2 separate regions of the Homo sapiens genome follow, and region 2 is linked to region 1. The links come from fine-mapping of genetic effects on gene expression. A gene starts in region 1. The other region holds a variant in brackets. All regions are shown on one strand. Distances are between the middles of the regions. Region 1 holds the start of CMC1 (C-X9-C motif containing 1). Region 2 overlaps CMC1 (C-X9-C motif containing 1).

The links. PIP is the estimated chance that this variant, and not a neighbour inherited with it, causes the effect.
Region 2: its variant is fine-mapped to the expression of CMC1 in subcutaneous fat (TwinsUK, PIP 0.95).

Annotation. Positions count from the first base shown.
Region 1 is chr3:28,231,897-28,248,966 of GRCh38, reverse strand. It overlaps CMC1 (C-X9-C motif containing 1), which reads right to left and starts at 7,348. Exons shown (of 4, transcript NM_182523.2): 1 at 7,155-7,348. The coding sequence starts at 7,173. RefSeq lists a silencer at 7,056-7,135.
Region 2 is chr3:28,267,241-28,284,310 of GRCh38, reverse strand. The region is part of intron 2 of CMC1 (C-X9-C motif containing 1); the gene reads right to left. Among named protein-coding and RNA genes, the nearest start is that of CMC1, 34 kb to the right of the region's middle. The variant CAAA/A (reference allele first, on the strand shown) is at 8,983.

The DNA.
Region 1 (17,070 bases):
TACAAAAAAATTAGCCGGACATGGTGGTGGGCGCCTGTAGTCCCAGCTACTTAGGAGACTGAGGCAGAAGAATGGCACAAACCCAGGAAGCGGAGCTTGCAGTGAGCTGAGATCACGCCACTGCACTCCAGCCTGGGCAACAGAGCGAGACTCTGTCTCAAAAAAAAAGAAAAAATGCAAAAATAGAACAGAGGATTGTCGGGGAGAATGTTAACTTGGGTATCAATAGTTTTATTTGGGCACAATTTTGTTTGGTCCACTTATATCAAGTACAAGGTAATACTTCTCATATTTTTGACATCTACAGAATTTTACACATATGATTTTAACACCCCAAACAAAAAATTAAAAAAGATACTAATCCAGGCAACAAGACACAAACTTGAATTTATTTCTGTGTGGAGTCAAGAACCCCTTGAGACCTATGACAAGTATTAATATTTAGAATCATAAAAGTTCAAGGCTTGAAGCAACCTTAGCAATTATCTGATACATCTCTTTCCCTACTTCTCATCCTCAAACCTCATATTATGTCATTAAGGACAGGTTAATGACAAAGTCTGAGACAATAAGTCAGTCTTACTAACTCCCAAATTCGGTGTTGATTCCACAACAGTACACTACCTCCCTGGGAGGAGGTGGCCAATCTTCTATAATCTAGGTGAAATTAACTGACCTATCCTTTTATCTGGTCTCTAATGAATTTAAAGAGGTGGATTCATATGAAAAATATTTACTATTTATTACACAGGTAGAACATTCCCATTCTTCAAATTATGTTTTTCTTTATTTCTCCAATTATTTGTTACATATAGGCGCATCATATCTGAATAAAAGGTTTCCTTTTATTCGTCAAAGAAAAGGATTTTATATCTAAAAGGAAAACAACTCTATACATAGGTTATATGATATTTTGGTGGAGTTTTTAATCCTAAACCTTAAAAAAAAATGTTTAACTGGAGGTGGTGGCAATCAGGAAAACTCTCCTAAGAAACTGATTTTAAATTGAGTTGTGAAAAATGAACAAGAATTCAGTAGACCTGGGGATAGGGAAGATGGGAGAAATTCTAGAGAGAACAGCATGTACGATGGCCTAGAAGACAAAAAAAAAAGTACAGCTTAGCCTACCTTAGGTATATCTTAAGCCAGTGTTATTCAAACTTGTTAACCACAACCTGTGACACTTTACTGGATGCAGTACACACACCTGTGTGTATGTATACATGTGTGCAAGTACCCATTCCTATCTGACCTGTCACTATCTGAACTCTCACTACTATCAAAACTCTTACTATCCAACTAAGATTCCTAACAGATTCAGATAAATTATTTTTAGGATAGAGCTGGTATCCCTCCTGCAGCAGAGAATGTTGGAGCATTCACATCTGCAACCTTCTCAGGACTGCCCCTGGCCATGGTAGCCCTTTGCTGTTTTCCTTGCTGCTGTCCCTCTCCCAACTACTACAGTAACCAATGACTGAAAAAGGGCATGAAAGCCCAGCTCCCTTGCCTCCAAGGCACAATAAACTGTATGTACCATGTGGTACACCAGAGCTGATTAGGTTAAGACCTGAAACCACATCCTTGCTCAGATTTTTCCCCTCCCGTCTCCTATTTTCCTTACTCTCTTAAGGGTTTTTTTTTTCTTTTCCTAAAGGCAATCTATTAATAAACCACCCAAATTACATGCAGTTCTAGTGACCAGCTCTTACTCTCTAATACTGTGCCCAAATAAAAGGAACCAGGGCTTCTCAGAGAAATAACTAATTGTATGGATTGGCCAGGGTAGGTACAAGATGAAGCAGTGATACCTTGTGTGAGGGAATAAAAAGGAAATGCTCAAAAAAATGGTGAGAGTATATGACAAAGATCCAGAAGCTAGCTTAAAGGGAACTCTGGCCAAATCTGGGGAAATTTGAACACAAAAAATACTTATGTACATTAACAGAGTACAAACGATTGAAAATACAGCAGTTCATGAGTCCTTACCAAAAATACCAATAATAAATTCATAAATCAATGAAAATGAAACAAAGCAATCTCTTGCTTACAGTAAAATGTCAACAACCATCTAGTAAATGTGAAGGGAGTGTGCTGGAGGTAGAAAATCATTATTTTGCAACCATTATGGGAAAGACTGAATCAGGTAAAAAAAAAAAAAAAAAAAATCAATGGACCCCAAATCAAAGAGAAATATTTGATGAGAAGCAAATATTTACAAGGTCTTAACCTTCCCACAGATTAGTTACTAATTGCAAAACAGAGAAAATACGGCAACAAAACAGGGCAAAACCTTGAGTGGGTAATCAAAATTAACATCACCTACGAGAGACAGATACCCATGTACCTCCAGATGGGATACTCTGGAAAGACACATCATGTATGCAGTATGTGGCTGAGATCAAGGTTATTCTTGATCTAAACAAAAGTCAGATCAACACAAAATAAGGAGAGTTCTGTTTGTCACTCCGTTACCTAAAAACTTGCAGTGTCTTCCCATTGTTCTTAGTATAAAATTCAAAATCCTTGAAATGGTTTACAGATCATTTCATGCTTCAAAACTGAAATCCCAACCCCCAACCCACTGCCATGGCACATACTCCTCTTTGATCTCAATTCTTCTTTCTTATTGTCTTTGCTTAAGCCTGTGTTTTTCAAATTTCACAGAGCAACCATCAGAGAGTTGTTAATCCGATGAGACAAAAATAATGTATTTTCTATGGCAAATATGCTTTTAATTTATAAATATACAAAATGTAGATGTTAGGTCTTTTTTTTTTTGTTCTGAGCCACCAACGTAATTTATGTCTAAGAAGATACTCTAGAGATATGGCGGCAATAATAAAATCAAAATTTTTCTTATAGGCCAGGCAGGGTGGCTTATGCCTATAATCCCAGCACTTTGGGAGGCCGAGGTGGGCAGATTACTTGAGCCCAGGAGTTCAAGTGCTCCTGAGCAAGGAGTTCAAGTGCAGCCTAAGCGACATGGTGAAACCCCATCACTAAAAAAAATAAAAAATTTTTCTAATCAACTCCACAACCTTTTACATATTAAACATACAATGCTCAAAAAAGATTCTTCAAGTTTGTTTACATGTCTAACTTAAAATTTTCTAGTAAATGTAAGGGCTAGTACTGTTCCTGTACCCCTAAAGGTAATTTACCTACATTCCCACAGGAACCACTGAAAGAACCCCAACTTGGAGTACTGCAACCCAAATGTTCCAAGAACATCCATAATTAAATCTTCCCAAGACACATATACCTTAAACACCTTCTCATGGAATGTCATGAAATTCTTGAACCCACTTTCCACCCCCTAAGCCCTATCTCTGTCCCATCTTCCTCCTTTTATTAAGTTCCCGGAAAAAAACAGCAATAGAAGGACACAGGGACACACACACACCTGATTAAGGAAACTTCCCTTAGGCTGCCATGCCCCATTCTGCATAAGTAGAGAATGAATCTATGTTGACAGAGGGAAGAGAACCTAACTAAAAAGGGGAAAGGTCAAAGAAGGGAGAAAGGAATTACTTTAGTTGATAGAGAAAGTGAAAAATCAAATTTATCAGGTGCAGGTTCCTATGGGCCATCATCTGAGAATATAATCATGTCTGAAAATTTGTCCGGAACATGGCAATAAGCAAAGATTGCTGTTATTACTGCTACATTAACAAAAAAAAGGAAAATAATGTAAATAAAACTATGTATAAGCATGTAACCTGCATTTTTTCGCTGGGTTCACAGTTTCTTGAGGAAAACAGAGACCCTACAAAGTTAATTAAAAGTTGCTGCCAAATGAAAATCAAGCTTCTATAAAGATCACAGAAAATACAAAATAAACCAATAGGAAAACAGATTTTGCTAAATGAACCTCAATTGGTGTATCTATTATTCACTTACTCAATATGGGCAAATACCATCGTGGGCTGTACAAAGCAGTAAAACATCAAAATGTGAAACTAAGCTTCAACGTATGAACCAAATAAACACGAAATTAAAAAAAAAAAAAAACTGGCTTCCATACATTTTATTCTGGAATTTAAACAGACAAAACAATTTAGGGAAAAAAAAAAAAACCTTCCTACTTGCTGACTCCACTTTTTTACTCTCCATTGCTTCCATTCCTTCCTTTGATGAAGTTTCCAATAATCACATTGTTAGATTTGACCATGACCTTCCACCCAGCTGCTGACGTACAAAAACTGGAATTATCCCTATTTCCTCTTTTTTTTTTTTTTGAGACGAAGTCTCACTCTGTGGCCCAAGCTGGAGTGCAGTGGCGCAACCTCGGCTCACTGCAACCGCTGCCTTCCAGGCTCAAATTCTCATTCCTCAGCCTCCTGAGTAGCTGGGACTACAGGCGTGTGCCACCATGCCTGGCTAAATTTTTTGTATTTTAGTAGAGATGGATTTTCACCATGTTGCCCAGGGTGGTCTCAAACTCCTGAGCTCATGCGATCTGCCTGCCTCGGCCTCCCAAAGCACTGGGATTAAGGGCATGAGCCACGGTGCCCACTGTTTCCTCCCTTTCTCTCACCATCCTTATTCAATGCAACCACAGGTCCTGTCAATTTCTCCTCATGACGCTGTATATTTCTTTCCATCTGTCTATTACCATCTTGGGCTAAGATACAAACATATTTGGCCTGGACTACTGCTCCTATCCCTTAACCTGTCTCCCTTCTTCCACTTATGACCTGACCCCTCTACAATGCATGCTACCACTGTAGCGAGGATAATAAACACATAAATTATGTTACTGCCCTCTTTAAAAGATTCTAAAGGCATTTGATGCCATTAGAAAAAATCCAAATGCTTTATTATCACAGCCAGCCTTTGAGGACTTGCAGCCTCTGCAATATCTAGGCATTTAGTGACTACCTACTTTCCCAATATCTTTCCTTATGGATCCCCTCCACACTCTGACCCACGTTCAAGTTAAATATTTTAAGTATTTGCTACCTGATGGCCAAGCACACTCTGCCTAGCTTCCTCTCATCCCTCAGATTCCAATTCAAATGACACTTCCTCATAAAGCTCTTCACTGACTAATCTCTTCACCATCTACCACATGACATTATTTTCTTCATGTTTATCACAATCTGTAAAAATGTGTGTGTGTATGTGTGTGTGCCCACGCACGTGTCTGTGTAGGGGGAAAAGGGGGTGTTAATTGTTTTTTCTACCACTAGATAAGCTTTATTGGGAGCAGGAATTTTGTTTGTCCTATGTACTACTGTTCCCTAGGGTCCAGAACAATATGGGACATATACCAGACACTCAACAAGTCTTTGTTTAATCAATACTCAAAAGGTGGCATGGTCTACAGCACTGGACTGGAAATGAAATTACCTAGGTTCTAACCAGACTTGACTCTACCAGCAACTAGCTGTGTGGCCTTGGGTACAACACAAGATTGGAGTGGCTTATGAGTAACTGGAAGGTAAGCAAGTGAAGAGAGCAAGTATGAAGACTTTTTTCCCAAATTTCCTTGTCTAAATTCAAAAAGTGTAGATATATGGAAATCTTTAACCTCTCTCATTCTCAGTCTCCTCATCCGTATGAGATTACTTTAAAGGTCACTTCAAGTTCAGAAGTACCATAATTAGGCTGGGTGCGGTGGCTCACACCTGTAATCCCAGCACTTTGGGAGGCCAAGTCAGGCAGATCACTTGAGGTCAGGAGTTCCAGACCAGCATGGCGAACACGGCGAAACCTCATCTCTACTAAAAATACAAAAATTAGCCGGCCGTGGTGGCGGGCGCCCGTAATCCCAGCTACTCAGGAGGCTGCGGTGGGAGAATTGCTTGAACCCAGTAGGCGGAGGCTACAGTGAGCCGAGATAGCGCCACTGCACTCCAGCCTGGGCGACAGTGAGACTCCGTTTCAGTAAAATAAAAAAAAAAGATACCATAAATTATATGGGCCTAAACTTGAACCTTCCTTACTCACCCCTCACTTATACTCTACCCCTTCTACCCTCAAGAACCAAATCATGGTAGTCATCCTGAAACCAAGCATCGCACAGTGCACCTTACTATCTAAACCTTTGCTCATAGGGCTGCCTCTTCTCCAGCTCCAACCACTGGAAATTCCATCCCTCAAAGCCCAGATCAACTGCTAACTGCTTCATAACCACCTAGTCCAAAATGAATATGATCATTATGTTCCAGAACTCCTCTATGCTTCAAATTAGAGTACTCCCTGATCTACCACTACCTGCTGGACTAGTCACTTAACTTCTCTTCGCCTCAGTTTCCTAATCTGTAAAATGGAGCTAAAAGGACCTACCATACCACATATTATTGTTGGATAATAGAGAACACTTAGCATGGTAATAACATGTTCAATTAAAACATTATTTCTGTGCTACATATATTTTCCATGCTCCTTGAAGGCTCCGAAAGAGCATTTTCCATTTCTGAATCTCCCAAGTTTGACGCCATTTACCTCTCAATGTTTTGACTTTTTGTATCCATAAAATGAAAGAAATGGACTAGACCAACTACCATTCCCTCCAAAAATGTTATCTATTCCCTTGCAAAAATAGCCTAACGCAAAGATACTGCAGGTGACCTTCCACAAGGACGGGAATTCGAGGGTAAGTTAACTATTGCTGCAAACGGAAGTGGCTGGAAGCAAAGAGATTAAAACAACATTCAAGATTTTGAAGATCCTTTCCAAAGAAACTGACTCCTGCCATAGTGATGGATCCTTTGAAATATGTTTTTAAGTTGGGTTACAAGGATGAACTCGGGGTCCATGAACTCCCAAACAGAAATGTAAAACTGTGCGCCAGAACAAATATACAAATTTTTCTGGGGCCAGAGTGTCTGCAGCATACATTAAATGCATCTGTGACCTTAAGGGGCGAAAAGAGGGTGACAATGAAGAGACTAGTCGCGTTAAGTTGGAAACCACAATGGATGATACTTTAGACAACAAACGCAACCTCAGATAACCATAATCCCCAACAAGTGAGAAGATGACCTCAGACCGGGCGAAGCAGCCGCCGGGTATGAGGAGACGCTGGTGGAAGCAATGCTACCCAGAGCTCTGCACCTTTCCCAGGTCGGCATCCAGCCCGCATGGCCCGCGGCGTGAGACCCGGGGCGAGGCCCCTCGGCAAACCCCGCTTCCCGCCCCGGTACCTGCGGGGTCGAGCGCCATCTCGGCGGGCCGAGAAGAACGTAGCCGCTTGGCGGCTCCGGGGCACGCAGGAAGGGGAGTGGAGGGGAGGGGCTTGGGCTCGGACGCACGTGCGACCCCCGGGAGCTTCCCGCAACAGAAACACGGGCCCTTTGCAAAGCACCGCCAGGACCCGTTCCCTCTTCCTTCCCAGGCTCCTACTTCCGCCGCCCGTTGCGCCTGCGCCTTTCTGGCCCCGCCCCAATCCTGTAACTAGAGTGGAACTGACTTCGCAGGGGGAATGACCAGGAAAGGGGGCGTGTCTGCGTGCCTTTGGGGCGGGACCGTGCAGGACGCGCGCAGCCTCGCTTCAGGAGGCTTGTGCACCAGTTGCAGACCCGGGTCGGCCGTGACTGGAGGCGGACCTGCAGGACTTTGGGACTGTGCCTCACTCGGTGACTGGGCCAAAGTCCGAGCCCCGTCCCCCATACCCGCCTTCGGAGAACCAAATGAATCATCCAGTTCCTTTTTTTTTCTTCGTTAACGTTCATTCATTCATAAATGTCTATTTCATGCCTGCCAAGTTCCAGCCACGGTTCTGAATACGAGGGGAAAATAACAATAAAAATAACGTCCCTGTTCTCAAGGAGCAGTGTGGCAGAGGAGACAAATAAAAGCAACACGCTGTTAAATGTGATAAACGCCACACGCACTAGTTGTTCACAGCTTGTTCTACCATAAAGGTGATATGGTGTGTGCAATATCGTTATTTCTCCTTCAAATCAAAGACTGTGGCTCTCCTAGACGTTAAAATATGGGCTCTAGAAGTACCTCTATGTTGTGAAATAATATCCTCAGGACGTACAGTATGATTTGGGTGATGTTACAAATCCTGCCTCTATCAGTAAAAGCTGTATGTTTTGTGAGAGTAAAATGAAGGAAGGTAATAGCCGTCCCGCTGAAGACCCACTACTCACCTCTTCTCAATAGAAGAAACTTTCTAGGTGGCACTTAGGTTCATTTCCACTCACAAACCAGCCTTCAGAAGTGCTTCCTTGTCAAATTCACGTTTAACTGGCTCGAGCCACGAAAGGGTGAGCTGAGGCCTGGGACAGATGGGACAGATGTTTAGAAAAACAAGGAGCAGCTGCTTCTTCCCTGCAAGGGATTCAGGGCTTTCAAAATGATCCCCTCCCCACCTACCTGCAGTCCCTCCTCCCCTGCTGCTGCTTCCGCCTGGTCAGTTGGCAGAAAAGCTGAGGCAGTTGAGCAGGGCTGGGAAAGTGGGTCTCTGCTCAGCAGGTCTTCCGTTTAAGGGCCTATTTGGGCATAACGGCCCTTATTACAGCTGTAGGTTGAGGTGCCAAGGTGAAGAATTAACGTTTCACTCACCCAGCCAGGGAATCAGGTCCTTTTCCTTGTATATTTTGTAAATATGCTTAGAAATACACCAAAATGACTCTGGTATGCCTCTTTTATTGTTCTGAAGGTGAAGGATTTGATTTAGAAAGCTAAAGCAATCTTTTTGAGGAGATGGAGTATGAAAACACAGGTCAGACACCCATATTCAAGAATTAAACTAAATCTTTCTATATGCAAAAGGGTATTATGGTAAAGGAGGAAAGTTTGATCTGTTATCTTAGTGAGTTGAGTAAGTTCTATTATTTTTCTGGACTTTGGTTTCCAATTTACAAGGTTGTTCTGAGGAATAAATGTGATATCATACAATGCATTTGAAAGACTTTAAAGGACCACTTCTACCATTTCTGCCATAGCTATTACTTGAAACATTACTATTTAACATTTGTTTTTAAATCAACACATTTTTAAAAACACTTAAATAGGCACTATTTACTTTAGCCTTATCCTAAGCAACAGTATCTGTAATATCATGGGTTTTGTGTGCCCCATAGAATGAACTGCTAGACGTATCACACCAGGAGAAGCACTAGCAAAAACGGTAGCCCAATACCTGATACATAATAGTATATCTCTCTCTACTCCCATGTTAAACCAGATACTTTGGGGGGAAACTGAGTCTTTACAATCTATACCTAGGGAAGATAAGTCATTTTTTAAGTTAAGCGAATGTAATTGGCAATTAAAAACAGAAGAAATTTCCTGAGGCATCGCATTATTAATAGGCAATTCTTTGGGTAGTAACTGCAAAAGGAGCTCAAGGAAAGAGGAGAGGACATCATCCTGGAAATTAGGAACAGTGTCTTACCCAGCTGTGATCCCTAGAGCTCAGGCAACGTCTGGTAACTGGTGACCCCACAAAAGCCTTTCTCAAAGGATTGAATGCCGCAATGGTTAGGAAAGACTTCAGAGATAAGTTAGAAGTTATGCTCGGCCTTGAACGATGGGTACAATGAGTAGACAGAAAAAAGGGCATCTCATGCTGGGAGAAAAATGAGAGCAAAAGCATCTGGGATTTGAACTGTTCTTGAAAGAGCATGGTGGAGCATGGCAGAGTACAGGCTAAGGAATGGAATCACATGAACAAAAGCACAGGGGTGGGAAGCACCCAGCTGTGTGGCAGGAAGCACCACGGGGCTGTGTGGCAGGCATGTGGTGGGCAATGCTTGAAACTACTTCAATGCATTTTAGGATTTGGGAAGCTAGGGCAGTTATGCATTGGCTAGAAAAGTCCAGATTCCCACAGCCTTAAACACTAGACAGAGGTGTGTTTGAATGTGTTACTATAAGCAACCAGAATCTGTTGAAGGTTAATATATAGGAAAAGAGCATTGTGGTCAAAATTTTCTAAAGGTGTTTTATAAAAGTTTTGCGCAGGATGAATGTAGGCAGCGAGGAAAGAGCTAAAAGGCAAGCAGAAAAGTAAGGAGGCTATTGTACTGGTTTGGGCAAGATATGAAAAGAGCCTCAACTGGGATATATAAAAGGATGGATGTGAGAGTAATTGCAAAGGAAGAATCTATCCTTTGAAATTGGATTTAGAAGACTAAGACAAAGAGTCAAGATTTCTGGATAATTCCTTTTTTTGGCAAATGTATACAGACAAATGAGAAAATCATGGCAATGTGCCTATTCATGCCTGAAATGATCTGCCTTGATCCTCATTATTGGGGGCTAACAGTGGCGATAATGAAACAGAAAGATCAGTTCAGAGAAATTTGCAGTAATGCAGGGTAATAACAGTAGTTGAACCACAGTGAATTTCTCTTTGTATGTGAAGGCAAAGGAATGTGCAAGTAGAAACAAGTATCTTGATTATTTTTGAGTCAATTCTGAATTGGATCTAACATTCCTTTATGCTATATGTTGATATGCAGCTAGTTGTTTTTTGAAATTGAGATTATCAGTCAGCCCCTCCTTGCTTCTGCCTCTTCTTAGCATCAGAAGTAAAGACTTTTCATCTGCAGCTTGGCTCTGCTACAGATGAGAATAAAACTTGAAATCAATGAGATTTCAAATTTGAGTCAGTAAGAATCAAACTTGAAAGAATATTAGACGCCTCATCTCTACCAGAGGATAGGATTTAGAAGTAGTTCTCGGCCAGAAGATCACTAATCAAGGGTCCCTGGTGGCCCTGCCTACTTTCTGAGCTGTATTATTTAGCACCCAGTTTGCATGGCTTGTGCCTTCTCTGGTTTAAAAGGACTTAGGTCCATGTTGACATTTCTATTATTTGCTAGGGTGGTCATAATGAAGTGCCACAGTCTGGGTAGCTTAAACAACAGAAATATTTTCTCACAATTGCAGGTTAGAAGTCTGAGATCAAAAATGTCGGCAGAGTTGCTTTCTCCTGAGGCCTCTCTTCTTGATTTGTACATGGCATCTTCTCCTGTGTCTTCACATGGTCTTCCCTCTGTGTGGCTGTGTCTCCTAATGTCTTCTTGTAAGGACATCAGCCATATTGGATTGGGACCAACTCTAATGAATATCCTAATGGCCTCATTTTGTCTAAACTACCTCTTTTAAAACCGTATCTCCAAATGCAGTCACATTCTGAGGTGCTGGGGGCTAGGACTTCAACACAAGAATTTTGGGAGACACAGTTCAACTGATAAAAGCATTGAAATATTTTTAAAGGACTACAATTATTCCCTGAATCCCAAATCACTTCACTAGAGCCCTGAGAACCTGTCTAGTGTTAGCCTGTCACCAGAATAAAATACTTTGTCCCTGTTTTCCTGGCTGTTGAATAGGGCCTGTTTTAATCTGACTCAGTTCACCTATCCACTTCAATCAGCTCCTGACTGTCCCTTCTCTACATCTGATTGATCAAAACATGTAGTCAGTTCTCCTTCCTTAATATATCTTTATTTCATCTGCCAATCAGAGTCATAACTCCTAGTCCAAGGTCTGCCCATTTGTGCTGATATTATTGTAATAGTTCTGAACTGGCTCTCTGTTCCTAGGCATTTCTTCCTCCCACTTATTCTCTCTATTCCATGTCACCCACAACAGCAAATATGATTATAAAATTTCTTATATAAAATTCCCAGTAAGAGACAACCTATGGAATGGGAGAATATATTTGCAAATCATACAAATGATAAGGAGCTAATATCCAAAATATATAAGGAATTCAAACAACTCCATAGCAAGAAAACAAATAACCCAATATAAAAATGGGCAAAGGACATTAATAGGCATTTCTCAAAAGGAGACATATAAATGATAAGTATGTGAAAAAATGTTCAACATCATTAATCATCAGGGAAATTCAAATTAAAACCACAATGAGATATCACTTAAGATCTGTTAGAATAGCAGAAATACAGGAAGATAATAAACATTTATGACGATATAGAGAAAAGAGAACACTTACACACTGCTGGTGGGAATGTAAATTAGTACAGCCATTATGGAAAACAGTCTGGAGGCTCCCCAGAAACTTAAGAACAGAACTATCATATGATCCAGCAGTCCCACTACTGGGTATATATTCAAAGGATATGAAAGCAACATGCTGAAGAGATATCTGCACTCCCATGTTTTATTGCAGCATAATTCACAATAGCCAAGACATGGAATCATCCTAAGGGTCCATCAATAGACGAATGGATAAAGAAAACATGGTATATATACACAATGGAATACTGTTCAGCTCTAAAAAGAGAAATTCTGTCATTTGCAACAACATGGATGAACCTGAAGGACATTATGTGTCCTTCAATTTTGAAAGACTCTTGCGTGAAATAAGCTCAGCACAGAAAGAAAAATACCGCATGATCTTACTTATATGTGCAGTGTGAAAAAACCAAACTTATAGAAACAGAGAGTAAAATGGTGGTAACCAGAAGCTAGGGGTTTGGGGACCTTGGGGAAATGTTAATTAAAAAAATAGAAAATTTCCATTAGACAGGAAGGATAAGTTCAAGAGATCTACTGTACATCATGATCACTTCAGTTAGTAACAATATATTGTCTATTTGAAAACTGCTACTCTGTAATAAATTTTATGTATTCCCATTACAAAAAAAAGATAAGTATGTAGAGTAATGCATATGTTAAATAACTTTATTTTGTCATTCCACAATATGTATTTTAAACGTCATGATGTACACTATAAATATATACTATCTAACTTGCCAGTTGAAACAAATACATGCATACATACATACATATATAAATCCTCAGTAGTTCCTTATATAAATAAAATTCAAACCCCTTCTTTTAGTAAGGTTCACAAAACTCTTTATAAACTTAGTCCCAGATTACTATATCAACTTTTCGTAACCAACCTCCTTGTAATCTGCAATTTCTGCTACATTAACTTACATACAATGGTTTATTAAATTACCTGTAAAGACTTCTTTGGGCTATCCTGGAAAAATGGGTAAGAGTTTGTAGTTAATATAAAAACTTGAAACTGATGCAGAAAAAGTATCTAGTTTTCACTAGGACCATTGGAACTAAACAGAGTGATATAATTTGGATGTATGTACTCACCCAAATCTCATGCTGAATGTAATCCCCTATATTTGAGGTGGGGCCTGTTGGGAGGTGATTGGATCATGGGGGCAGATTTCTCATGAATGCTTTAGCACCATCCTCTTGGTACTGTCCTTGCGATAGTGAATGAGATCTTGTGAGATCTGTTTAAAAGTGTGTGGCACCTCCTCTCTCTCCCACTCCTGCTCTGGCCATGTGACATGTCTGCTCCTCCTTCACCTTCCACTATGATTATAAGTTTCCTGAAGGCTCCCCAGAAGCCAAGCAGATACCAGCATCATGCTTCCTATCCAACCTATGAGCCAGTTACACTTCTTTTTGGTATAAATTATCCAGTCTTAGTATTTCTTTAGAGCAACGTGAGAATGGCCTAATACACAGAGCTAAACTCATTTTTCTCCCCTACTTTACTTAACTTTTTAAATTGAGATATAACTTATATACAGTAAAGACTACAAATCTTTGTGCAGCTAAGTATTTACGTATTTATACACTTTGAACTACCACCCAAAATAATGCTCTGTCAAAATATAGAACATTTACATGTTTATACACTTTGAACTACCACCCAGAATAATGTTCTGTCAAAATATAGAACATTTCTAGTCATCCAGAACTTTCCTTTTTATCTCCTTTTAGTAAAACCTCTCTCTACAAAAGTAGCTACTCTCATAACTTCTCTGAGCATTGATTAGTTTTGCCTGTTTTTGATCTTTATATAAATGTAATCATACAGTGTGTAGTCTTTCCTATCTGGCTTTTTTTTGCTCAACTTCATGGTTATGAGATTTATTCATGTTGTTGTATATATAGAGATAGCTGCTCTGCTACTTTAAATGTAACTTTTGGTAAATTGTTTATCCTCCTGAGCCTCAATTTTTTCATCTGTACAAATATAACCCACCTCCGCATGATTGATTTGAGCCTTAATGATGCCCTGTTACAAACGCTGACAGTGGTGTCCAGCACACAGTAGGCCATTCTTAAACTATAGTAATTGTTACTATGATGATTGTCCTCTCTATTTTCACTTTTGAAAACTGTTCTTTCAAACTATTATTACAGGATATGTAGTTTTTAAAAATGTTTTATTCAGAGCTACTCTGCCTTCAGGATTGAAATCTAGACAACAATGGGTTTAAATCAGTATTATGTGAAACAACCTTCAAATGAAGAAAGGAGATTTAGCAGTGTGCCCTATCATTTATCAGGTGAGAAAAAAAAGTGTGAAATATCACCTCTCACCTCTGCAGAAGGCTTTCTATATTTTATGTTTTGTTTTTACTGTGTATGGTTTTCTGGGTGGCCTCCTTTGAGACAGACCACAATATTCTCTGGGGTCAGAGGCTCTATTCCTAGAAAATGAAATAATTTTCAAAAGTAATAATAATACTATGACATGACTTATCTTGGATTTCTCCTATTTTGGCTTTGTGTGGGTGCTATGATCCTCTGTAGAATTTCTCATAGGAACTGACGAAGAAAACACAGGAGTGTTTTTTGTTGTACACCGAGCCTGAAACATCAATGACATACCAGTTAGTGGGTCAACTGCACTGAAAACAAGTCAGAGACCTTTTGCTCATTTAGAGGAAACAAAGTTATGAAAACTTTAGTGACTTAACACCAAGTATCTCCACCCTGCTAATCTGAAAGAAGACAAATGTCTTAATTGAGCACCATTCCTCCTTCAGATCAGAGAATTTTCTGTATGCCGCTCACTGTACTGAATCCTGGGAAAATAAAGATCAGTAAGATGAGGTTTCTGCCTTTAAGGACTCAAAGTCTAGAGGGAGATAGAAAAATATATGAACAAATAATTACAATTCAACTGATAGATGATGATATGGGAGCCCAAAGAATGGATAAATTAATTTGACTTTCAGAAGACTTTATATACTTGCTTATGTTCGAGTAGGTCTTAAAGAATAATTAGATTTTCAACAAGAGAAAGGCAAATGGAGTCCTCATTGACAAAGCTTTTACCATGTAGAATAGGTGTGGGATTAGTGCCATGCCCTATGAATATGGTTAAAATAGCTAGATTATCCACTACTATTTGGAGCCAAAGAAGATACAAGAAAAAAAAAATCTAATGTTAAGTATTGCTATCAAGTTTCAATGCTTTCTTCCCAGTGCTATGCTCAAACAAAACAATCCCACATCACTGATTCTGGTATCTTTACCAATTAGACATGAAGCATTAAGTCCAAATGAAGACATCCCAAAGAACTCAGGCCTTGACCTTTAGTAAAGAAGAGTGTTTATGTTAACTTCTATTAATTTGATTCTGTGTCATGGAGCCAGGGATCTCAAAGTGTAGATGAAAGATGTCCTATAAAAATAAGGTATTGCTGTTGTTACTAAGTCACATGACTATCTGCTTTCTGAGGAAAGAGATTGTGTCTTATGTGCTATGGTAGTCCCCTACATTTCTCACAGGACTTGGCATCATAAATGCTTCTTGCACAAATTCCTGTTAATGGAGAATGTAAGGGCACCATGTAAAACTGAAGTGGGTCACATGGCCCATCAATTATTCTTTATTAATATCATTTCTGTTCTTTTCCCTGTCCCTAACTCCTGCCTTAATTCTGACACTATTTTCGTCCTTTCTGGTTATTTGCTATAGGTACTTCCAGGTTCTATATACTTTAAGAGATGTTTTCTTAACTCAGGACATGAGGTACACATTTCTGGTATTGTCTGCTTGGCATCTTGCTCTTCTGTTCCTTCCCTACTTTATTATATGGTTTCTACCAGTGTCCTCGTGTCCTTACATGACATCTCTCTTTACCCATATTCATTGGTCCAAAAATGGATACCTGGCCTATGAAAGGCTGATGAAACTCTGTCCTAGAAATTATAGATGTGAGTCTAACATCTCAGTTTGTATTCTGAGTCTGCAATTGTTAAATGCAAAATATGTAGAAGTCATTAAAAGACTAGTTTTTGCCATGTAGTGAAAGCTACCTATAGGGAGAGGAAAAAGGTGAAGCCCAACCAAAGAGATACAGAGACTTAAGACTGAGAAAGTCCAGAAGAAGTTTGGTTTCCAGTTGCAGTTTCTGTGAGGCTCAGCTCTATATCTGCCTTTCTGTGTCTTTGCTCTTTGTTGAGCCACAACAGACATACATAGGACACCTCTTGTGCACCACTTCAAATACTTTTGGCCCAAATCTTATACATGGGGCTGGTTCTTTTCAAGCTTCCTTCAACCTTCTTCATGTAGGTGCAACTTGACAGCACCTTGCCTCAGCCTTGTGCCTCTCACTTGCTTCTGACACTACACCATGGAACATGCACAGGCACCCTCTCAGTAGCAGTTCATATACAATCTAGAAGTGTAGGGGAAGTTAACGCCGGTAGGACTACCTTGATTAATAGTGAATGGAATCCAATGGATAAATGTGCGCCATTTTTTAATTCCCCAGGCAGACAATCTTGAAACACATTTTAAAGATTCCTGCAAAGGTCTCGTGGTAAACCACACCAGTCACCTGTGAAGTAGGAAACTTAATGATACATTCATGTATTATCTTTCTGTCCTTCCCTCTTTCACTCTTCCCTCTTCCTCACTCCTGCTTCTTGGGATTATATTCCAAGACAATCAATCTGCATGCAATCTGGTCTAAAAGAACACTTGCTCGTTGTTTCCCATGTTTGTTTAAGTTGGTTCCTGCCTCTTGCTACTCAAAAACATTGTCATAATTAATACAAAGACCTGCAATGGTTCTCTCAATGCCCATAGAATAAGATCATACAAGCAACAGAACTGGATGAGAATACATGAAAATCCAAGCACAGGAAGCAGCCTACTAGTTTGTCGGGATGACCCCATATTACTATTTGCCTATTCTTTGCCTGTTGTAATCTGCTCTTCTTTGCTTTCACCTTCTCTGGCTGAAAATCCCTTAGCTCTCAATACTTTAGCTCTCAATACTCATGCCAGGCCTTCTTTCTTTGAAGACCCATGTGTTATGCTACTCCAGGTGTGACAGTCACACTTTCTCT
Region 2 (17,070 bases), 35 kb before region 1:
CAGACTTCACCAGGGAAGATATGAAAGAAAAAGATAACACAAAAGAAGTTGCATGAAGCCTTAATCACGGAAGCAGTAAATAGTAGACCTATTTAGGTCTACTCTGAAAATCACTGGGTACTAATGAAATGAAAGAGCTCCTCAATATGCTCAACAATAAATAAGTCAACCACAGATGATCTCTGAAGCCAAAATGAGAGGGAAAGGAACAATTAAGATTTTTCACACTAATGCATCACAAAGTACACTTAAGTCAAATCTTCAGATATTCTAATTTCCAAAAGTTCAAATTTTGCGATCTAGGCATAAAATATATCTATGGGAGGTATACCAGGAAAAAAATACAATGCAACATATCCTAAATTTAAATTTGTACACTGTACTGACACAATCTAGGATTCAATGAACATCTAGCTGCTTTTAAAGAGGGTTTCAAATTTCCAAATATAGCTTTGACTTTTCTCCTAGGATGGTCTAGTTCAGTCTGTGTAGGTGAGTGACAAGAAATAAGCAGACACTGTAACTGCAGTAATCTGTATTGAGATGGAATACAACTGTTCCTACTGAGTCAATAAAGCCAGGGTATTCCGTCACCATAAAGGCATATCATCTGTCTGGAACAGTCAGTTAGAATGGAAATGAAATCACCACATAAAATGCTCAAGGACCCAATAGGCTTAAAAAGACAACTATAAAAGCAAGACAATATATTACTGCAGAGAATTGGTTTCTTTCTTCTTTTCTTTTTTTTTTTTTTTTGTTTTTGTTGTTGTTGTTGTTGTTGTTGCTGTTGAGATGGAGTCTCTCTCTGTTGCTCAAGCTGGAATGCAATGGTGCAATCTCAGCTCACCACAACCTCCACTTCCTGCATCCAAGCGATTCTCTTGCTTCAGCCTCCTGAGTAGCCGGGATTACAGGCATGCGCCATGACACCTGGCTAATTTTTTTTTTTTATTTTTAGTAGAGATGGGGTTTCGCCATGTTGGCCAGGCTGGTCTCGAACTCCTGACCTCAAGTGATCTGCCTACCCCAGCCCACCAAAGTGCTGGGATTACAGGCGTGAGCCACCACACCTGGCCAAGAACTGGTTTCTAATCATGTGCTTGATATTTACCCATGGTTTGACCTAAAGCTAGTCAATTACCTAATATTTTACATAAAGCACTTTGAAAAATATCATAAAGATTCTGCCCATCACTTTAATTCTATGCAAGACTTGTCCTTTGGCAATGTCACTGACTAGGAAGGTATGAGTACAGGGTTGAACTACGGAAATACTTTGCAACAAATACATGGCAAAGTTCAGAAAGTCAAAAAGAAGCTGAGCTGTGTGTGATGACCTGGAAATCTTACAGAAAGATATGTCCTAGTAAGTCTAGTCAAGTCAAATCGGATTTTCTTAAGCTCTGCTGGTAGAGATAGCTGAAATAAGGAAAGATATCTAATAATATGAACTTAGAGTTAAATTCGTTCTGGTTTGAATTTGATTGTCATTAAAACCAAAGTTTTAAGGTTATGATGAAGAATCAAAGGGATGAAAAAGTTAAATGTAAACAGATCATTCGTGGATGCATTTTAAAGATAATAACACAGGTAATATATTAGAATGCAGAGTAAAATTACTGGTGTTGATTAGAAGGAAAAAAGCAGCCTGACAATGTGAACTTTCAGATTATGTAAGCACAAGTCAGTAGCCATTAAATTAAAAGATTAAACTGTGTTTAGCTATTTAGCTAAACATAGCTAAAATATGTTCTTAGAGCAAAGAACATATTTCTTTAGCTTTGATTTCAAATAAAACAAAATATTACATTTAAAAATCTGACAAATCTGGTGAATCAATTTCTCCAGAGAAGGTAAGGAATAATGCGTAGGACACCTGTAAGAACAATAGCAAAAAGACTGTTCAGTTATCTCTGTAGGACTACATTGCAGTTAATGCTCATTCTCTTAAAACAGCCTCACTCTGAATAAATGCCACGGGTTATGCCACAGCAATCTGAGATAGGGACGTCTCTTTAGTTCTAGCAAACACACATGGTTACACTGCTGTCTGTCACTGTTAATGGAAAACAGCTTCTAGTTTTAAAAGAATGCAGAAAGCCAAAATTTAAAAAGTAAACTTGTAATTTGTCTTGTATTTGGTGGTAAAATTAATCTTTCCGTTTTATTTGTATGAAGTATTTTCCTAGGAAGGGAAATACACAGAAGAGAAAGAGGAAAAAAATGAATAAAGGGAGGTAGAAAGAACAGATTTCAAATTCTTCTGATTTTTTTTAACCAGAAATCAAATCTAAACTTCTGTTTCAGACTGTTAAGACACTCCAAAATCAGCCTTGACTCTCAGTCTTTATCTACATCATTAATCCCCTAATGCACCACTGGTTTCCTAAGGTCAATCTCTTTGCTGCTGTATCAACAAACATGCCCATTCTCACCTCTGTGCCTTAAATCCTGGGTCTCTGGTCTGAAATGTTTTTCCAGTTTCCCTATACTTAGCCAAATAATTAGCCGTACTTCAAGGTCCAGTTGATAACCCACATACTTCATTAAGTCTCACCTGCCTATATCAGAATTCACTGGCTTATTTTTTTCTAAAGTAACATGTAGGTATTTTATTATAAATTGTTTAATATGGTGTAATTCTATTTTCTGTGCCTGGTTTGTCTCTTATCAACCACACAATAAGGTACTCAAAAGCAAGTCTCAGACTTCAACTCTGTATCTACAGCACTTCTCACAGTATTGAACATGTGATAGGCAACCAATAATATTTAACAGACATGATATTAAACTTAATTCTGTAAATTAAACTTAATTCTGTGCATTCAGAGCAATATCAGAAGTTTTAAAAATTACTGAAGCAATGTCTAGTTATCTACTCAATCTTTGTTACCTTTTTCCAATGAAATATATTTAAATCCTAGAAAAAACTCAGAAAAGGAATCAAGTTTTAAAATTGCCAATATTACCAACACTTAGAAATAATACCTGTTAACATTTCCTCACTGCACTCTTCCTTTATAGAATCAATTTTAATTTGAATATTTATTTGATAACTATCTCCCCTGCCATACTTAAACTCAATAAGAATGCAGACTGAATCTGTTTCAGTCACATTTATGTAGACAGCTTACGTGCAGGGCTGGATACATGGTAAGTATTCATAAATTTACGGAATTAGTTAATTTAGGCAAGCCTTTCCTGTGTTTCTAGAATTTAATTTGATTAAACCAGGAGTCAGGAAATGTTTTCGGTAAAGAGCCAAAGAGTAAACATTTTAGGCTTTGTAGGCCATATGGTCTCTGTTGCAACTACCCAACTCTACTGCTGTAGTGTGAAAGCAGCTATAGGCAATACATAAGTAAATGAGCATGGCTGTGTTCCAAAACAACTTTGTTTACAGAGATAGGTGGTGGACCAAATCTGGGCATCAGGCTGCAGTTTGCCAACTGTTGAATAAATACAATATATTGTTAACTAGTTTCTCACTCTGATCAACACACTTACTGTGACTACAAATGTATGTATCTTATATCCTATGGCTGTACCATAATTTATATAAGCAATCGGACTCTGCTGACAACTACATTTTTGGCAATATTCCATATTATATATGATGCTATGTTGAACATCCTTATGCATATTTTATTGTACATCTCTTATCATTTCCTTAAGATAAAATCCTAATGGTAGAACTGCTAAGTAAGAGAGTAGCCACATTTATGAATTTTTGTGAATTTTTTAAATACAAGCTCCTTTCATGCTGTTATTCCTGGCCAGCAGTGTAAATACCTGCTTTTCCAAAATCTTGTCAACACTATACATTACATATGTTTTCTTACCCAGAAATACTTCATCATGCATGTGATAAGAGTTCAATATTTGTCTACATTTTTCTAATTAGATAACACTGATCTAAAATGAAATGAGTATTAATATATACCATTCAATGAAACAAAAGTATACCTTTGTGCAATACAAACCACCGAAAACTACAGAATATTAAAATCACTCCAGAAACTTCCTTTAATATCCTTTTTCAATCAATACTTGTCCCACTCCCACGTAGTGCAACTGTTGTTCATATAAGTTTTGTCTATTCTGAAACACTATATAAATGTTGCCTGTTCTAGAACATAATATTAAAAGAGTATACACTTTTTTCACTTATATTTCACTAAGCATAATAGTTTTGAAATTCATCTCAACTGTCGTACAGAACAGTAGTTTGTTCCATTTTATTGCCCATTGTACAAGTACACCACAATTAGTCATCTCTTCTTTTTTTGAGACGAATCTGGGCTATTTTCAATTTTTGGCTACTGATAGATACACTACTATAAATATTAGCATACAGGCCTTTTTTGTTTACGTAGTTTCATTTCTCCTGGAAAGAGTTGCTAGGTCACTGGGCAGATGTGTGTTTTGTGAATGTTGTTAGTGCTCTTAATTGTAGCCATTCTGGCAAGTATGCCATTCCATTTACATGAAGGTTGTCCTTATGTTATTGTCCTACAAGTCCGTAAGGGTTTTGCTCATTTTTTAAATCTTTTTTTTTCCCCTCTCTGTTTAGGTATTTCCTTGATCTATCTTTAGGTTATGATTCCTATTCATTTCCATTCTAAAAGTTTTATGTCAGTTTTTTTTTTTTCAGTTTTAGAATTTATATTTGGGTCTTTTTTATTACTTCAAATTCTCTGTTAATATTTCCTATTTTTATTCATTGCAAACATATTTTCCCTTATGGTTCTTAAGCAATTACAACAGCTGCTTTAAGATTCTTGTCTGCTAATAGCAACATATGAGTTATCTTGAAGTTAGTCCATTGATTTCTTTTCAGAATGGTTCATGTCTTCTTGTTTCTGTGTACACTGAATAATTTTGCATTCTACTGCAAATGTTGTGAGTAATACGAGTAGAAAGTTTGGGTTCTGTTTTTTCTGAATAATTTTTTTCTTTTTCATTTAAGCAGGCAATTTAATTTACTTTGAGTATGCATGCACACGCACTTTCCAAGGCCTGCAGCTACACCAAACCCTGTCCTTGGTTCTTCAGACCAACAAGACTGAGGGGTTTTGTTTGTCAAGAGTTTCAGCCACCCTACCTGGCAGGGGACTCACCCAGTGCTATTTCCTTCCTTCAATGTTTGACTTCTATTTTCTGTCTGCTTTTGTTTGCTCTCCAGTGCTTTCGGGTAGTTATTTTTCCTATTTTGTTCATAGGTTATAGTAGTTTTCTGCAGAAGGAATTGTGCAATGGAGCTACTAGGCCATGCCAAAAACAGAACTCTTTATAAACTGAATAAACTCATTATCAAATTTTAAATTATACTAAGTTTAGGTAATATAAAGTAATAGCTAATTGATCTAATGACATTCTTTCTGATTGACCCCATTCACAATGTGCTAGACAGCCACTATCAACTGATTAAAGTTGACACAGATGAACTGTATTTGCTATCTTTGACATAGTTAAAAGGTACATTATTATGGAAAACACACTAGGTTGGGAATAAAGATAGCTGAATTCTAATAATGGTCCTGCTATATTAACAAGTCAGTTGATACCGAATAGGTAATTTACTCTTTTTATTGAGCTATGACACCATGTCTTTCTATTCCCCACTGTATCTAACACCATGTATTGCACATAGTAGTACTGAAGGATAGTTTGTTGAATTAACAAATCAGTGTAGTTATGGTTTCTTCTGGAGGGAGAGTGGTCTATCTGAAATCTTAAGAGGAAGGCAAAGGAATACAAATGTCAATTTTTAATCTATCACTATCCAAGTTGAACATGTTACTGATAGTTCACTAACAGAAAATAGAACCTGCATAATGTGCACAAAAACATTAGAACCACCACAATTGTACAAACATTCTACTCCTTTGTTTCCCTTTATAAGAGAGATTTTTACTACTGTCTGATAAAGTGGTTTCACACTGCAATAATTAATAAGACACTTCAAAGTTAACATATCCAAAACTAAACTCTGAGTCCATCTACCACCAATAATAAAATAAAATAATATAATTTCTCCACACACAGTCTTCTTCATCTCTGCTAACTATAACTCCTCCTCTTTTACTTGTTCAGGACAAATAAGGAGCCATCTCTTTCTCTGTTGCCTCTACTTTCAAAATATATCTCAAATGTGCTCATTCTCACCACTTCCATTTTTACCACCCCTCCAGTCCACCATCATCTGTCAGTTGGAGTATCTCAATCACATCAATCACACAATCACATCAATCACACAATCAGACAAAAATGGTGTCTCTAATTCTCCCCTTGTCCCTATTCCACCTATTATTAACATAGCAATGAGAGCTGATTATAAATCAGACCCTGTCTCTTTTCATTGTTCAAAGCAATCTTCATCTTTCCATTTTTCTCCTTACTAGCTACAAGTCCTCAGTACCCAGGAGACCCTGAAAGATTCTGCCTCCAATCATTTTGCTGAACTCCTCCCTATTCACTCTACCCCTCATTCATTCCAAGCTAACCACAGTGACCTTTTTGGTGTCCCTTAGCCATGCCAGCTTCACTTACACCTCAGGGTCTTTGCACATGATATTCCTTCTGCCAAGATCATTCTTCTCAGAGATATCTGAATTATCTCACTCCTTCACCTCCTTCAAGAATTTGGTCCACATGTCACTTTCTCAGTGAGACCTATATTGATCACGTATTAGAAACTGCAGCCTCATTTTCAACATCAGCACTCCCCACTGACCTTATCAAAATTTATTTTTCTTTAAGGCACTTATATTTACTAATAATGTTTATTATTTATCCTCCCCTCCCCCACTAAAGTTCATAACTTTCAAGATTTTTGTCTATTTTATTCACTGTTATAAAATGGTAACTGACATACAGGGAATAATAAATATTTTAAATGAGTACATTCCACATAACGCTAAGGTTCAAGTGCTCAAAGGAATCAGAAAATTCTTTATTTGCTTTGTAAAATTATATTTTTAGTGATGTAATATTTGGCTAACACTAAAATATATGCAAACAGTATTACCAAACGCAAATACAATGGAGACAACCAATGTATTAAAATATGACACCAGATAAACTTGTTTATGGGCCTCAGAATAAAATCTCTATCACCTTTATTTAATATTCTGAAAATTTGAATAAATCATAAGAAATCATTATTCTTTAAAACTGCTGATTTATAGGATTTAGAATTTATTCTATACTTTCTATCTCCCAAAAGAGAAAACCACAAAAAGGAAGTGGAAGGAGATACATACTAGGCTGCAACTGTCACCTATAACTTCTGATTTAAAATCTGCTTCATCAAAATCACACATTGCTGTCATGTGCTGGCTCTATAAATGTAACAAAATGAAGCACAATACAATAAAACTGCTTTTATCTCTTTTGTACATTACGCTTCAAAGCAAATTCTGTCCCCAGACCCTCAAAAACGGGCTATTAATAACTGGTTTTAAATCTGAGAGTCTAATACATTCCAGAGTTTTGTAGAAACCAAAATGCCTCCTTTGTTATTTTTCCAACAGATATACAAGATTCCTATAAAAATGTATTTCAGTAAAATATGATTATCTGTGGGTATTTGCAAAATGTTTACCAGTGTCAGGCTCTGATTACCAGGAAAAAATGCCAACTGCAACTGCAGGATCATCAGGTAACTTAAGTGAAGTGTGATCTTCTACTCAGATTGTATATACAAGCACATCTGCTTAAAGGCCATATTTAATTTTAGATTAATTTCTCATGAAAGTATTTAAGTCTATTATAGCAAAATAATTCAAAGTTAATGTCTAGGAAGATTAGAACAATAAAATATTGTTAATGAAGTATTAGTAAAAAAGCTATGACATTTTATAATAATATATATTCATTTTAACAATATTTTAAAATTTCAAGATACGTAATTCTTCACATTTGTGTTCAAATGTAGATTTTACACAATTATACCTTGAAAGATGAGTTACATAAACTGTTTAAAAAACTATATTCATCCATCCTGACAAAATTCTCACTAATTTTGTCATTTAAATTTTTAGCATTTAAATATTTCATTGGGGCCAAGATGGCTGACTAGAAACAGCTGCAACAGCTGCGGTCAAAGGCTCCCACCAAGAATGAAAAGGGCAAGTGAATCCTGCACTGGGAATTGAGGTATCTAGGTTTTCTCACTGGGACTGGCTAGGCGGTTGGGACTGCCTAAGACTACTGAGTTCCCGGGGAGAGGGGTGGCTGCCATCACTGCAGATGATGGCTGCTGCCTAACACTACCGAGCTCCCAGAAGAAGGGGCAGCAGCCACCACTGCAGCTCCAGTCTGCCATTTTCCCCTGCCGGTGCCAGGGAGACTGGGTGGTTTGGAACCAGGAGGAATTTCCCACAGCAGAGCCCAGTGGCTGTGGCAGATAGTGGCCAGACTGCCTGTTTAGATCAAACCTGGATGCATCTCTCCTCACTGGGCAGGGCCTCCCAGTGGGAATTTCAGCAGTTCCAGTCAGGGGTTTATGGACAGAACTCTGATCTCCCTGGGATGGAGACCCTGGGGGCAAGGGCGGCTACGATCTCCTCATATCAGCAGACTTAGTCTTTCCCCTGCTGGCTCTGAGAAACTGGGGCAGTCCAGACGAGTAGGATTCCCACCAGAGCAGCACATGCCCTGCACCAAGGGGCAGCCAGAGTGCTTTGTTAAATGGGTCCCTGATCCTGTGCCACCTGACTAGGTGAGACCCAATCGGGGGGTTGCCAAACACCTTATACAGAAGCGTTCCCACTGGCATCAGGTCGGTGCCCCTCTGAGACCAAGATCCCACAGGAAGAAGCAGGCAGCCATCTTTGCTGTTCTGAAACCTCCACTGGTGACACCTTCAGATGCAGGAGGGAAACAGGTAAATAGGGTCTGAAGCGGACCCCGAGCAAACCACAACAGCCCTACAGAAGACGGCTGTAAAAAAAAAAAAAAAAGAAAAAAAAAAAA[CAAA/A]CAACTAACAGTAACAATGACAACAGCATAACAGCATCAACAAAAAGGTCCTCACAAAAACCCCATCTAAAGGACATCAAAGACCGAAGCTAGATAAACTCATGAAAATGAGAAAGAATCAACTAAAAAACACAGAAAACTCAAAAACCCAGAGTGCCTCTTCTCCTCCAAATGATCGCAACACCTCTCCAGCAAGGGCATAGAACTGGGCTGAGGCTGAAATGGATGAACTGACAGAAGTAGGCTTCAGAAGATGGGCAATAACAAACTTCACTGGGCTAACGGAGCATGTTCTAACCCAATGCAAATAAGCTAAGGACCATGATAAAACATTGCAGGAGCTGTTAACCAGAATGACCAGTTTAGAAAGGAACATAAAGGACCTGATGGAGCTGAAAAACACAACCTGAGAATTTGCAACAAGTATAAATAGCTGAAAGGAAGAATTTCAGAGCTTGAAGACTATCTTGCTGAAATAAGACAGGCAGACAAGATCAGAGAAAAAAGAATGAAAAGGAACAAACAAAACCTCCGAGAACTATGGGATTATGTAAAAAGACCAAACCTATGACTGATTAAGGTACCTGAAAGAGACAGGAAGTATGGAAACAAGCTGGAAAACACACTTCAGGATATCATCCAGGAGAACTTCCCCAACCTAGCAAGACAGACCAACATTCAAATTAGGGAAATTCAGAGAACCCCAGTAAGATACTCCACAAGAAGATCAACCCCAAGGTGCATAATCATCAGATTCTCCAAGGTTGAAAGGAAGGAAAAATATTACGAGCAGCCAGACAGAAAGGCCAGATCACCTAAAAAGGGAAGCCCATCAGACTAACAGTGGACCTCTCAGCAAAAACCTTACAAGCCAGAAGAGACTGGGTGCTAATATTCAATATTCTTAAAGAAAAGAATTTCCAACACAGAATTTCACATCTGGCCAAACTAAGCTTCCTAGGTGAAGGAGAAACAAGATTCTTTTCAGACAAGCAAATGCTGGGGGAATTCATCACCACCAGGCCTGCCTTGCAAGAGCTCCTGAAAGAAGCACTAAATATGGAAAGGAAAAACTGTTACTAGCCACTGCAAAAAAAAAAAAAAAGAAAAAAACAAAAACACTTTAGTACAAAGACCAATGACACTATGAAGCAACTACATCAACAAGTTGGCAAAATAACCAGTTAGCATCATGATGGCAGGACCAAATTCACATATAACAATATTAACCTTAAATGTAAATGGGCTAAATGCCCCCAATTAGAAGACACAGAATGGCAAGCTGGATAAAGAGTCAAGACCCATTAGTGTGCTGTATTCAAGAGACCCACTTTACATGCCAAGGCACACATAGGCTCAAAATAGAGGAATGGAGGACAATTTACCAAACAAATGGAAAGCAGAAAAATGCAGGAGTTGCAATCCTACTTTTTGTCAAAAGACTTTAAACCAAAAAGATCAAAGAAGGGCATTACATAATGGTACAGGGATCCATTCAACAAGAAGAGCTAATTATCCTAAATATATATACACCTAATATAGGAGGACCCAGATTCATAAAGCAAGTTCTTAGAAACCTACAAAGAGACTTAGACTCCCACACAATAATAATGAGTGACTTTAACACCCCAATGTTAATATCAGACAGATCATCGAGACAGAAAATTAACAAAGATATTCAGGACTTGAACCCAGCTCTGGATCAAGTGAACCTGACAGTTATCTACAGAAATCTCCACCCCAAATCAACAGAATATACATTCTTCTCATCACCAAATGCACTTACTCTAAAATCTACCACGTAATTGGGAAGTAAAACACTCCTTAGCAAATGCGAAATAACTGAAATCATAACAAACAGTCTCTCAGACCACAGCACAATCAAATTAGAACTCAAGATTAAGAAAACCACTTAATCACTAAAAACCACACAACTAAATAGAAATTGAACAACTAGCTCCTGAATGGCTCCGGGGTAAATAATGAAATAAAGGCAGAAATAAATAAGTTATTTGAAACCAATGAGAAGAAAAAGACAACATACCAGAACCTCTGGGATGCAGCTAAAGCAGTGTTAAGAGGGAAATTTATAGCACTAAGTGCTCACAACAAAAAACAATAACAAGTTCTGAAATTGAGGCAGTGATAAATAGCATACTAACCAAAAAAGCCCAGAATCAGGCGGTTTTAGAGCTGAATTCTACCAGAGGTACAAAGAGGAGCTGGTACCATTTCTTCTGAAACTATTCCAAACAACTGAAGAGGTGGGATTCCTAACTCATTTTATGAGGCCAGTATCATCCTGATACCAAAATCTGGCACAGATACAACAAAAAAAGAAGGCTGGGCGTGGTGGCTCACACCTGTAATCCCAGCACTTTGGGAGGCCAAGGTGGGCAGATCACAAGGTCAGGAGTTTGAGACCAGCCTGGCCAACATAGTGAAACCCCATCTCTACTAAAAACACAAAAAAATTTGCCAGGCGTGGTGGTGGGCACCTGTAATCCCAGCTACTTGGGAGGCTTAGGCAAGGATAATCGATTGAACCTGGGAGATGGAGTTTGCAGTGAGCCAAGATCACACCACTACACTCCAGCCTGGGTGACAGTGCAAGACTTCAATTCAAAAAAAAAGAAAGAAAAAAGAAAACTTCAAGACAATATCCCTGATGAAGATCAATGTGAAAATCCTCAATAAAATACTGGCAAACCAAATCCAGCAGCACATCAAGACGTTTATCCACCACGATGAAGTCACCTTCATCCCCACGATGCAAGGCTGGTTCAACACATGCAAATCAATAAACGAATTCATTACGTAAACAGAACTAAAGGCCAAAACTACATGATTATCTCAACAGATGCAAAAAAGGGCCTTCAATAAAATTCAACATCCCTTCATGTTAAAAACCATCAATAAACTAGGTATTGATGGAACATACCTCAAAATAATAAAAGCCATTCATGACAAACCCACAGCCAACATCATACTGAATGAGCAAAAGCTGGAAGCATTCCCCTTGAAAACAAACATAAGACAAAGATGCCCTCTCTCACCACTTCTTTTCAACACAGTATTGGAAATTGTGGCCAGGGCAATCAGGCAAGAAAATGAAAGGTTATTCAAATAGGAAAACAGGAAGTCAAACTGTCTCTGTTTACAGATGACATGATCCTATATCTAGAAAACCCCACTGTCTCAGCCCAAAAGCTCCTTAAGCTGATAAGCAACTTCAGCAAAGTCTCAGGATACAAAATCAATGTGCAAAAATCACAAGCATTCCTATACACCAAAAATAGACAAGCAGAGAGCCAAATCATGAATGAACTCCCATTCATAATTGCTACAAAGAGAATAAAATACCTAGGAATACAGTTTACAAGGAAAGTGAAGGACCTCTTCAAGGAGAACTACAAGCCACTGCTCAAGGAAATCAGAGACGATACAAATGGAAAAACATTCCATGCTCATGGATAGGAAGAATCAATGTCGTGAAAATGGCCATACTGCCCAAAGTAATTTATAGATTCAATGCTATTCCCATTACACTACCATTGTCAAGCATCCACTAGAATTCGGAATTGGAAAAATTTCACAGAATTAGAACAAACTATTTTGACATCCATATGGAACCAGAAAAAAGAGCCCATATAGCCAAGACAATCCTAAGCAAAAAGAACAAAGGTGGAGGCATCATGCTACCTGACTTCAAACTGTAAGGCTACAGTAACCAAAACAGCATGGTTCTGGTACAAAAACAGACACATAGACCAATGAAACAGAATAGAGAACTCAGAAATAAGACTGCACATCTACAACTATCTGATCTTCGACAAACCTGACAAAAACAAGCAATGGGGAAAGGATTCCCTATTTAATAAATGGTGCTGGGAGAACTGGCTAGCCATATGCAGAAAACTGAAACTGGACCCCTTCCTTACACCTTATACAAAAATTAACTCAATTGGGAGGCTGAGGTGGGTGGATCACTTGAGGTCAGAAGTTCTAGACCAGCCTGGTCAATATGGTGAAACACCATCCCTATCAAAACATAAAAATTAGCCAGGTGTGGTGGCACATGCCTGTAGTCCCAGCTACTTAGGAAGCTGAGGTTGGAGAATCACTGGAACCCAGGAGGCAGAGGCTGCAGTGAGCTGAGATCATGCCACTGCACTACAGCCTAAGCAACAGAGTGAGACTCCATCTCAAAAAACAAAAAAATATTAACTCGGCCGAGTATGGTGGCACATGCCTGTAATCCCAGCTACTCAGGAGGCTGAGGCAGGAGAATCGCTTGAACCTGGGAGGCAGAGGTTGCAGGGTTGCAGTGAGCCAAGACCGTGCCATTGCACTCCAGCTTGGGCAACACGAAAACTCCATCTCAAAAAAAAAAAAAAAAAAAAAAGAAATTAACTCAAGATGAATTAAAGACATAAATGTAAAACCCAAAACTATACACTAGAAGAAAATCTAGGCAATACCATTCAGGACATAGGCACGGGCAAGAATTTCATGACGAAAATGCCAAAACCAATTGCAACAAAAGCAAAAATTGACAAATGGGATCTAGTTAAACTAAAGAGTTTCTACATAGCAAAAGAAACTATCATAAGCGTGAACAGACAACCTAAAGAATGGGAGAAAATTTTGGCAATCTACCCATCTGACAAAGGTCTAATATCCAGAATTTACAAGGAACTTAACAAATTTATAAGAAAAAAACAAACAACTCCATTAAAAAGTGGGCAAAGGGCATGAACAGACACTTTTCAAGACCTTTATGCTACCAACAAACATGAAAAAAAGCTCAACATCACTGGTCATTGAAGAAATGCAAATCAAAATCATAATGAGATACCATCTCATGCCAGTCAGAATGGCAATTATTAAAAAGTTAAGAAACAACAGATGTGGTGAGGCTGTGGAGAAACAGAAACACTTTTACACTGTTGGTGGGAATGTAAATTAGTTCAACCATTGTGGAAGACAGTGTGGTGATTCCTCAAAGACCTAAAACCAGAAACACCATTTGACCCAGCAATCCCATTACTGGGTATATACCTAAAGGAATATAAATCATTCTATTATAAAGATATATGCATGTGTATGTTCACTGCAGCACTATTCACAATAGCAAAGACATGGAATCAGCCCAAATGCCCATCCATGATAGACCAGATAAAGAAAATGTGGCACATATACACCATGGAATACTATGCAGCCATAAAAAGGAATGAGGGACATGGATGGAGCTGGAAGCCATTATCCTCAGCAGGAACTAACGCAGGAACAGAAAACCAATCACCACATGTTCTCACTTATAAGTGGGAGCTGAACAATGAGAAAGCATGGACACGGGGAGGGGAACAACACTCACTGGGGTCTGTTGGGGGCAGGGAGGCAGGGAAAGCATCAGGATACATAGCTAATGCATGCTGGGCTTAATACTTAGGTATGGATTGGCCAGGTGTAGTGGCTCACACCTGCAATGGCAGGACTTGGGAGGCCAAGGCAGGCAGATCACCTGAGGTCAGGAGTTTGAGACCAGACTGGCCAACATGGCGAAACCCCATCTCTACTAAAAATACAAACATTAGCGAGGCGTCATGGCGTGCGCCTGTAGTCCCAGTTACTTGGGAGGCTGAGGCAGGGGAATCACTTGAACCCAGGAGGCAGTGGTTGCAGTGAGCTGAGATTGCGCCACTACCCTCCAGCTTAGGCAACAGAGAGAGACTCGGTTTCAAAGAAAAAAAAAAAAAGAAACCTAGGTAATGGGTTGATGGGTTGATAGGTGCAGCAAACCACCATGGCACAAGTTTACCTATGTAACAAACCTGCACATCCTGCACATGTATCCCAGAACTTAAAGTAAAGTTTCATTTATTTCTAAAACCAAAATATACTGCATCTTCCTCTGTGAGAAGAAAACTAGCCATTTTATTCAAGGGTATTTATGTCCAACTACATATAATTTTATTGCAAAACTGTCCTGTTTTCAGAAACAAGATAATCATAATAAGCTATTGAGTCTGATAATGAGCATATGAGCTAACACATACAATTGAGAACCACTGGATCAGTAAGTAATAACCATTATACAGTAGTCCCCTGTTATGCATGGGGGATACGTTCTAAGCCCCCTAGTGGATGCCTGACACTGCAGATACTACCAAATCCTATGTATACTATGTTTATTTCCTCTACATACATACCCCTGATAAAATTTGATTTATAAATTAGGCATAGTATGAGATTAACAACAACTAATAAAATAGAATGTTTGTAACAATAAAAGTTAAGTGAATATGGTCTCTCTCAAAATATCTTATTGTACTATAAATATCTTATTATACTAACCCTTCTTATGATGATGATATGAAATGATAAAACTAGAACCTCAGTTGACCACAGGTAATTGAAACCATGGAAAGTGAAACCACAAATAAGAAGGACTGCTATATACTTTGTTCAGTTATTTTTAAAATAATTCAGCTGTATTTATGATTGATATAAGCCTATTACTCATGATTCCATTGGCATAACACCAGGCATGATAGGCATACACAAATAGTTACTGCTAAGTAACTTTTATTATGTCCATGTGCAGAAAAGAGTTAACATAGCAGGCATGACACTGCTATCCTTAAAAGGCTTGCTTGCAAGATTGGCCCTTAGGTGGCATCGGAGAACTCGGATCTTGGGAGTGTCCCCATTTCGTAATTGATAAGAGTGGCTCACTGTGCCCAAACTGTTTGTACAAACAATATGATTTATGCTGAACACCTGCTTTCCTTCTGGGAATCTGAAATTTTGGTACATGTTAGGCAGAGGGTTCCCAAATGTTTTATTGAGAACAAATTCTCAATAAAAATTCTGGGGACTGAGTCTCTAATGAGCCTCCCTGGTAGACAACATTTCACATGTGTTGTCACAATACAGTGCTGGAGAAATTAAGCACACCCTGAGTGACTCTACCAGGAGAAGACTCATGGAGCTTGTGCCACGGTTTCTTCTGAACTTTCCCATATGCCTTTTCCCTTTGTTGATTTTGCTTTGTATCTTTTTGCTGTAATAACCTTTAGCTATGAATAGGATTATATGCTGAGTCCTGTCAGTCTTCCTAGTGAATCAACCAATCCAATGGTGATTGGGAACCCATGAGATAGTTCAGTGTAAGTCCAAAGTGCAGAAACTGTGCCTTATATCTACTTGTATTTCTTAGACTGTATAATATACTCATATATAACAGCTATTCATCATATGCGGTGATTATTTTCCTTTTAGTATATCAAAACCAGTCTCAAGATGTGTTGCATATCCACTTCAGCATTAGTTAATACTGGTGCACTGGTTAATGACAAAAATACATGTAATAAGAGTGGTACACCTCAAACAACAAATAAAAAGGCAGATTTTTGGCAGCTTCAAGTAACACAGTTGGACAGAAGAGTGATTACTTTGACCATGTATATAGTCTGCAGCCCTGCAACCTATTTCAATGCTGTTCTGATAATTACCTGCCTGTAAACTTCCTAAAGAACATTCTAAGCATTCTTGACTTGATTGTTTTTTGTTCATTCACTTATCTTTGGAATTTCACAAAATACAACATACTTCAGTTCTGTGTGATTGACAGAAGAGCGCATTTTATCAAGCTTCTTTGTTATTTACCTACAGCTCTGTGATGTTTCAAACAAACAAATAACCCATGCTTCCTTGTACTTTATGTAATTCTTTCAGAGCTATATCCCACTTATTGGACAACAGATCATAAAGACTGCAACATAAATACAAAAGAAACATTAAAATAAGGGAAAAGAGGGCCCAAGGGATGAAAGGAGTCAGTAAGAGAATACAGCTAGGTTAAAGAAAGTTCCAGCCCATCCCTGATGACAAAATACTTTTCTGTCTTTACCTGTGATAGCAAAAGGAAAAAAGAGAAAGGGCTGTTATTATTTCTAAAGCAAACGTCATTATCCAATATAGAGACTTTATAGCAAATGTCAACTATGCACTTCAAAAAAAGCAAAGAAATATAATGAGGAATTTTTACAAAACACTATACAATTCAGTGACTCTTCCTCT